Linked DNA regions of Homo sapiens: region 2 is linked to region 1. A link means that fine-mapping ties the variant in region 1 to the plasma level of a protein whose gene starts in the linked region. Region 1 holds a variant in brackets. A gene starts in the other region. All regions are shown on their reverse strands.

Region 1 (4,527 bases):
CTTCTAGTTACTCAAGTATATTAGCTTTCCTTAACAGCCATTATCCCATGTACTATTTGCTTCTGCCATTCTCCCCTATAACAGAGAATAGACATAATTGGAGCTTCATATTCTGCTCGCCACCTACAGGAGCAATTTCCTGCTCACATGGGCACACATGAAGACTGGTGGTAAAGAGAATTCCCACTGAAGTTAGAGATATCCAACAATGGTAACAATCAGGCACTAGGCCTCTAACCTATTGACCTTCTGCTTTTTGTTGGTTCTGTGCTCCAACTCTTTGATTGTCTTCAAGGTTGTGCCTCATTTGGCAGATACCTGCTAACTATGTGCTCATTTGAAATATTCAGGATTAATCTGTAAAACTGACTTTACATAGGTTGTTGAATTGTCTTGTTTTGCTGGCAGTGAAAAAAAAGATACTGAAACAAAATCCAACACAACTGGGCTTCATACATAGAATCCATTTCTCCTGTTTCTGCAAAGATTTATTTTTCATTGTTTCAATAACTTTTGACAAATGAGCACTGGAGGAAAAGTGCTGACAAGTTCAACTTTAGTAGTTCAAATGTTTTCTCAATTTTGAAAACTTACAAAGCATATCTAGAAAAGAAATGATGCAAGACAGTTGTTACAGAATAATTACAGATTTACTCTTAAAGGATAGCAAAATTGCTTATGCACTACATTTAATGAATGTAAGCTCCTTCTACATAGTATAGTTAAAATAAACCATACACACCTCAGAAATGACAGGATGAGATACACTTGTGCCTACAGGGCTCATCATAACACTGCTCTGCTAGATGAAATGACAGAACAGGCAGGGATAAGAGGATCCCCACATTGTTGCTGAAGAAGGTTGCTTTAACTTGAGTAGGTAGAATTCAGACTTAAAAAGATGAGACAACAACTTCTAAACTGATGGAGGAGCTATAAATATTTGGGAAGCCACAAGCAGAAACTCCCAGCTTTGCAAATAGCTATAAGAAATGGGGCAAGTTGTTTTAAACAAAGATTCTCATCTGACTGCAAATCTGAAAAGACAAGGCAACAAAATATATACTTATCAGAGAGTGACTACTGCCTGGCCTTGAGGAGTTATCACTGTATGTGTACAGGACAGAAAGGAGGGGAGTTTCTTGTTCCGCCCTCCTCTTCGGCTGGCCATGCAGATCCTTTAGTTTCTCAATTTACTGGGGCTTTCAAACATGTTGGGCCAACTGACAGTAAGAAATACTGTTTCTATTACAGCCCAGCACATACCTACAAATATGAAACCGTAAAAGTAACCAAAATTAAAGTTCAATAAACTGGCACTTCTTTCTTATTTTTAGTATTTGCCATGCAGGCACTCTATTTTCTACTCTGTGAAACTGTCTTCTATTTCTGTAACAATAGGTAATAATTAAATGTGTAATAAAGATGTCTATACATTACAGGTAAAATTAAATACACATATATTTATCTATATAGATTCATACAGATAATATGATATTATCTATTTAAATAAGTGTTAATCATGACTCTCCAATGGGCTGTGACCACAGTTTGAAAAAAAAAATAAGAAGACACGATGACTCCTTCAACAGCATGAGAAAGCTCTCACAGGAGCTCCACTGCCTCTCACCTTCCAAAGGGGCACCTGGTGCCTTGCCCACATTCTCTCAGTACCCATACATGCCGTTTGTGCTGGCTTCATTTACACTGATTACTCTAAGTGTTCTGACATTTTCTCTTTTGCTCATTTTGTATTCTCAGCTTGAGTGAAAATTAGAACAACAGGGGCCATTCCTGCTTGACTCATGTATCTTCTTTCATAGCTCCTCCCAGGATCTAGCACAGTGTGTCCCTTCCACTGGACTGTTGATAAATGTCATTGACCGTTAA[G/T]GCAATTGCATGGCAATGCAGAAGAAGTATAATTTGATTAACTGCAAGTACTTGTAAATGCAGACTTTTTTTTTTCTTAACTAAAGGATTTTTTTTTTTTTTTTTGAGATGGAGTCTCGCTCTGTCACCCAGGCTGGAGTGCAGTGTTGCGATTTCGGCTCACTGCAACCTCCGCCTTCTAGGTTCAAGCAATTCTCCTGCCTCAGCCTCCCTAGCAGCTGGGATTATAGGAGTGCACCAGCACGCCTGGCTAATTTTTGTATTTTTGGTAGAGACGGGGTTTCACCATGCTGGGCAGGCTGGTCTTGAACTCCTGACCTCAGTTGATCCGCCTGCCTTGGCCTCCCAAAGTGCTGGGATTACAGGCATGAGCCACTGCGCCTGGCCAAGAATTTTTGTCTATAAAACGGAAGTAAATATTCAAATGAAAAATATGCACTCTGTCCATGATACTTTCTACCATTTCATTGTTCATTCGTGCCTCGAATATATTTAGTGGTTACTGTTTGCCAGAAATTGCTTTAGAAGCTGGGCATATATAGTCCATGCTCTCAAGTAATGTGGACTACAAGGCAAGTAATAGGTTTTTCTCAGAATTGCAGTTTATTCAAATGAATTGTCAATGTGTCTAATTTTGATTTGGCTGTTGCGGATTTCTTGTGTTTACTTTGTTTCCCTCAATATCATTATATAATCTAAAATATGACCTGGCTTTAAAAAAAATGCTTACCTTACCAAAGGTGCACTCAGTAAATCCCCTTTACTCCCCATCCACTGTAATCTTTGGACTTCAAGTATATAGAATTAATTATAGTCATGGGTTTATGAATACTATCATCATACGTCCATTCAAGACTCATCCATCTGTCTACCTAACTACCTATCGTATCCAAATTGATCTATAGATTTAATATTGTACCAAACATAACAACATACTATAAAGCTATTATAATTAAGGTGGTATTTAAAAGTGTCAATGGTCAGGGACACTACTTTATAAATTGACCAGTGGAACAGAACAGAGGACCTGAGGTAAATTTGTGTACCTTTTTCTTTATGTCAGAGGGGATATTGTAGATCACTGGGGAAAGGAGAGACCATTAAATAAGTTGAGCTAGGAAAAAATATGGATCATCAACATTGACTACAGATGGATTAAGAACTTAAATGTCGAAAGCTAAACTTAAAAATCTTTAGAAGAATACAGGAGAATATCTTTCTAAACTTAGGTACAGAAAATTTGTTTTGTTTTGTTTTTGAGATGGAGTCTTGCTCTGTCGCCCAGGCTGGAGTGCAGTGGCACAATCTTGACTCACTGCAACCTCTGCCAGGGTTCAAGCGATTCTCCTTCTTCAGCCTCCCGAGTAGCTGGGACTATAGGCGCGTGCCACCACGCCCGGCTAATTTTTGTATTTTTAGTAGAGATGGATTTTCACCATATTGGCCAGGCTGGTCTTGAACTCCTGACCTCATGATCTGCCTGAATCTCCTGACCTCCTCAACCTCCCAAAGTGCTGGGATTACAGGCGTGAGCCACCATGCCTGGCCAGATTTCTTAAACATGATACAAAAGTACTAATTTTGGGAAGATTAATAAATTTGACTACTCTAAAATTAAGAACTTGTGCTCATCAAGTCATGTTAAAGAAAAAAAAGACAGGCCAGATACTTGGGGAAAATGTTTGCAGCACACCTAAATGACAAGGATCAGAATTAAACCACATAAAGAATTGCCACAAATTAGAAATGATAAACAGCTGTCTTGTCTTCTATTCTCACCTACTTTCCCCTGCTCTTTTATTTTTGACTCTGATTCCCTTATCCAGCCAAAAACAAATTGGATATTGTCTGAACAAGTTGCTTACTTCTACATCTGTGCCATTTCCTTTAGCTAGACTACTTCTGCCACCACCAGCTGGACCACTGACATTCCATATACTTCTCTTATCATTCCCAAGAACCATCCTTCATGAATTCAACCCATCACTGCTATTCCCTCAGAGTTCATAGGGAATCAATTTAAATTTGGTTGCTATGTTCTCCTCTTCCTCTTCCTCCTCCTCCTCCTATCTCTCCTCCTCCTCCCCCTCCTCTCCCTCCTCCTCCCCCTCCTCCCCCTCCTCCTCCTCCTCCTTCTCCTCTTCCTCCTCCTCCTTCTCCTCCTCCTCCTTCTTGCTCTTCTATAGGCTGGCCTTGAACTCCTTGGCTCAAGCCATCCTCCTGCCTCAGCCTCCTGAGTAGCTGGGACTACAAGCATTCGCCACCATGCCTGGCTTTACATATTCTTTTGAACTGATTTTTTAGACATCCTGTCTACCCTGTTACATTTCAATTTTTCCTAAATATAAGAACTCTTGTGTTACATTCTGTTTTCATGGTCTTCCTTCTGCCTGGATTTTTTATCCCATAGCTTAGCACAGTGTTGTGCACGTGTTGGGTACCTAGCAAGTGAAAGTTTCTTTCATGGACTAACATTGCAAACATAAAGATTTTGCTGAGTTTAATCATAAACTCTTCAAAAGTAGAACAAAATGAAGGTGGATTTATCCAAGGAAGTATAAAGAAAGAAAAAGGCAGCAGTTCACACAAATAAATACCTAACAGAGATCTCAGACAAGTTATGTAGACATATGGAAG
Region 2 (4,165 bases), not on the chromosome of region 1:
TACCTCTGGTTTCTGTCTATCTGCGTAAGAAAAAAAAATAGAGAAAAAGGGAAATTACAACCACATCTATATTCTTTTCCCTTCCTTGCTTCATCTCCCCCTCCCACAAACCCATATTCCCTCAACCCTACTGCCCACCCCTTACTTATTTTTGTATGCAATAATGGTATTGGACACACAAGGAGAAAAACAGAAACAAGCAAAATGACCAAGTGTAAGCTTTATTACCTTTCCCTCCTCAAAGTCCTATCATCCGTATCAATTGAGACTACCTTATCAAGTCAATCAGAACCTTTGCTAATTCTGGGAAAAGCAGAGGACTATCCTTCCTTGTCCTGGAAGGACAGTACTCCCAAATGGTAGTGGTGAAGAGAGTGGGCACTGGTGTCAAACCTGGTTTAAATCTCGTGGCTCTGCCACTTACTAGCTTTGTAAACCTCAGTTTCTTCATCTGAAAAGCAGGGATAATAATACCTCATAGGATGTGAGGATCGATTCAGGTAAAGTGCACATAGTAAGACCTCAAATTTTGGCACTTGTTGCTGTTAAGCTGTATTAGGTCAAAACTATTAATTGATTAAGATCCTTCATATCTGTTAATTATCTGTGCATCAAAAAGACTTTATGGGCCGGGCACAGTGGCTCATGTCTGTAATCCCAGAATTCTGGAAGGCCAAGGTGGGCAGATCCTTGAGCTCAGGAGTTGGAGACCAGCCTGGGCAACATAGCGAGATCTTGTTAGCCAGGCATGGTGGTGCACGTCTGTAGTCCCAGCTATTCAGCAGGCTAAGGTGGGAGGATTGCTTGAGCCCAGAAGATGGAGGGTGCAGTGAGTTGTGACTGCGCCACCACACTCCAGCCTGAGTGATGAGAGACCCTGTCTCGAAAAAAAAGTCTTATGGTCAGGGGCACAGTAGCTCATGCCTGTAATCCCAGCACTTTGGAAGGCTGAGGCAGGAGAATTGCTTGAGCCCAGGAGTTTAAGACCAGCCTGGGCAACATAGCGAGATCTTGTCTGTGAAAAAAACAGAGAATTTCCAAGACCAGGCATGGTGGCTCATGCCTATAATCCCAGCACTTTGGGAGGCCGAGGCGGGTGGATCACTTGAGGTCAGGAGTTCTAGACCAGCCTGGCCAACATGGTAAAATGCTGTCTCTTCTAAAAAAAAAAAAAAAATTAGCCGGGCATGGTGGTGGGTGCCTGTAATCCCAGCTACTCAAGAGGCTGAGGCAGGAGAATTGTTTGAACCTGGGAGGCAGAGGTTGCAGTGAGCCAGGATCACGCCATTGCACTCCAGCCTCGGCAATAAGAGTGAAACTCTTGTCTTGAAAAAAAAAAATATTTCCAATCTTAACTATTTGGTCAATAATCACCTAATGAGCAGTAAGACATTTTACCTAATGACCAACCAGTAGTTGCTCAATAAATAATAGGTGGAATCAATGGCTAACAATGTGAATAACCAATGCATGTTATGAATCAATAACCAGGTAAGTCAGTAACAGTTCATGTAAGCAACACTGGCTGGCTTAGCAACTGGGTTTTAGATACCAGGACTTTTCAGATCCGTCAACAAAGACCCTGGCTCATCACCAAACACTTACTGGTTGCATCTCTGTGAACACTGAAGAGAGGCTATTCCAAATATCCTCCAGGCCAATCCTGACCCGTTTCCAAAAAGCCAGGGCTGGGCAGGGGCTGGCGGGTGGCAGGCTGGGACTGCTTCTGAGGTGGATGGTGGGGAAGGGGGTAGTGGTGGTCCTGGTACTGGTGGTGCTCTGAGAGGCACAGTTGGTGTCAGTACAGAGACTTGTGTCCAGGGGGCACTCTTCCCGAAGTCGGTTGCAGGGACATTGTTGATAGGTGCAAGGCTTGTGCTCCGTGCGGAGCTGGCTCAGCGCCCCAACTCGAAGGCGCCCGGAAAGGCCGTGCAGCTTCCCAGACCGGCTCCGGCTCATGGTGCCCGACTTGCAGTGGCAGTGCCACGGGCCCCAGGGCATCAGCACCAGCCGCAGATCCTCAGGAGATGGCATGGCTGTGGGTGAGGGTGACGGCCACCGGCTCGGGGTAGACCCAGGTGTGGACCACTGGCTCAGGGTGGCCTGCGAGCCTGGCAGGTCCTCAGTAGACCTCCCGGGGGAGCGCGGCAGGCTTGAAGTCAGCCTGATTTCAGGCTCCTGACTATTGGCTATAAACCTCGTGCTGGAACTCCCCGCTGTATTGGGAGTCGCACTGGGAAGCTCTCTGCTGGTGCTATCCTTTCCGGCATTAATCACAACCCCCTCTTCTGAAGACCCATCCTCCTCGTTAATGGCGGACGACCGGCTAAAGCCGGTGGACACCGTGGCGGCCAAGAGCTCGGCAGCCGCTGGTCCAGCCAGGCGGTCGGCGTCGGCCATGGCATCATTCTCGTCCTCTAGGATTATCCTTGTCTTCCGGGGAAGACCAGTCCGGGCGGTGCTCCGGTAGCTGCGGGTCATGGGGCCCCCAAAGCGTAAACTGACCCGCTGCATTTCGGTCGGAGTCTGGGTCAGGCCTTGGGCCCCCGCCGCCCGGGGACCCAGATTCAGCAGCAGGACCCACAGCAGCGCGCCGGCGGCGGGGACCATGGGGCTGGGCTCTTGGGGTTGGGAGGGTGGCCAGTGAGGCAAGCCCTGCCTCCTACCTTCGCTCCCTCCCTTCCGCTGTAGACCCACCGGGTCGTTTGAACCGAGGCCCGCGGGGAAGGGGGTGGGGTTCGACGCGCAGGCGCGCTCGCGCGGGCCGCGCGGGGTGCTCCTAAGGAACCTCTGCGGCAAGAACTCTGCCAGAACCGAAGGTTTGGGATGCAAGGGGTGGTGAAAGAGTCGTTCACTTCTTTGGAGCAGAGCTTAAATGTCTCATCGCAGTTTATTAGCCTCTACAGTTCTAAATTTACTAAAGAGGGCAAAAATACAGGTTTTGAAAGCACTCCTTCCCAGGCTCACAGGCAGCAGACATGACTTAGAAGGAAAAAGGGCATACAGCGGTTCTTCAAGATTTAATGAGCTGACTCTCCTGGCTCCCAGCAGGCAGGCTGGCTGTCAGGTAAGCCTCTTCCATCCAAGGTGGAAGGATCACAGTCCCTCCAGTTAGACAGGAGGAAAATTAGGACCCAAAAAGATGAAGTTATTTGCCCAAGGTTCTACAGCTAAAGTAGGATTAAAACCCAGAGCTCTGGCCGAGCGCGGTGGCTCACACCTGTAATCTCGGCACTTTGGGAGGCCGAGGCGGGCAGATCACGAGGTCAAGAGATCGAGACCATCCTGGCCAACATGGTGAAACCCCGTCTCTACTAAAAATACAAAACAATTAGCTGGGCGTGGTGGCGTGCGCCGGTAGTCTCAGCTACTCGCTGAGGCTGAGGCAGAAGAATGGCTTGAACCGGGAGGCGGAGGTTGCAGTGAGCCGAGATCGCACCACTGCACTCCAGCCTGGCGACAGAGCGAGACTCCGTCTCAAAAAACAAAAAACAAAAAAACCCAGAGCTCTGCATATCCCATACAAAATGACCCTACATTCAGCCTTCCGTCCCAGCAACTGGAATGAAAGTCACCCAGCAGATCAGTTTCCCAGCCTCAAAGCCCTGCTGAAAGTAGGGTCATGCAAAGGACAAAATCCCACTGAGAAGTGAAGATCCGGTGGTACTGAGGTTGGGGATAAGATGATTTACAAAACAGTTCAGATGTTTCAGGGATTCAGGTGTAGGCAGATCACTAACTGGTTCTAAGGCCTTTTATCCAGTCCTGTGCTATGTCCCTCCTGAGCCATGGAGATCCCGGTCCAGCCTAGGAGAGGGAGAGGGGGAGGAGAGAAGTGGTTCAGGGGGTAGGACTTGGGTTTTATTTTCTGGTTTGGGGAGAGAAGCCAGGTGAATTGGAAGAGCTAGATGATTGGGTTGAGTCATCATTTAGCACTTTTGCTCCCTAACACCCTCTCCCCCACTGGATATCATCTGTTCACTGCCAACACATCTCTTCCTAATTTCTAGGGCCAGTCTGAATCTCCTCTGCACTGTGATTATTCCTTTATTCCTTATTGCCTCTGCACTTATATGTATAGGTTTTTTTTTTTTTTCATTTATTCTTGTTGGATGCAGTAGTGTCCTTCATTTCTTCTCTGGGTGTGTGCAGTTTCCCCATATAC

Alleles and levels. Positions count from the first base shown, and alleles are read on the strand shown. Strength reflects both the effect of a copy and how common the allele is.
As copies of G replace T in region 1, the plasma level of the protein whose gene starts at base 2,707 in region 2 goes up (weak association).

What was found. PIP is the chance, under the fine-mapping model, that this variant and not a neighbour inherited with it causes the effect. The UK Biobank Pharma Proteomics Project read protein levels with antibody pairs (Olink). The fine-mapping took linkage between variants from a reference panel, not from the people measured, so its PIPs are less certain.
Region 2: it holds the start of C1orf56, and the variant in region 1 is fine-mapped to the plasma level of the C1orf56 protein (UK Biobank, PIP above 0.99).

What each region holds. Positions count from the first base shown.
Region 1 is chr2:179,872,087-179,876,613 of GRCh38, reverse strand. No RefSeq gene overlaps it. Among named protein-coding and RNA genes, the nearest start is that of ZNF385B, 13 kb to the right of the region's middle. The variant G/T (reference allele first, on the strand shown) is at 1,891.
Region 2 is chr1:151,046,293-151,050,457 of GRCh38, reverse strand. It overlaps C1orf56 (chromosome 1 open reading frame 56), which reads right to left and starts at 2,707. Exons shown (of 2, transcript NM_017860.5): 1 at 1,606-2,707; 2 at 1-20. The coding sequence starts at 2,610. It overlaps BNIPL (BCL2 interacting protein like), which reads right to left. Exons shown (of 10, transcript NM_138278.4): 10 at 2,738-3,807. The coding sequence ends at 3,771. RefSeq lists enhancers at 1,810-2,049, 2,330-2,379.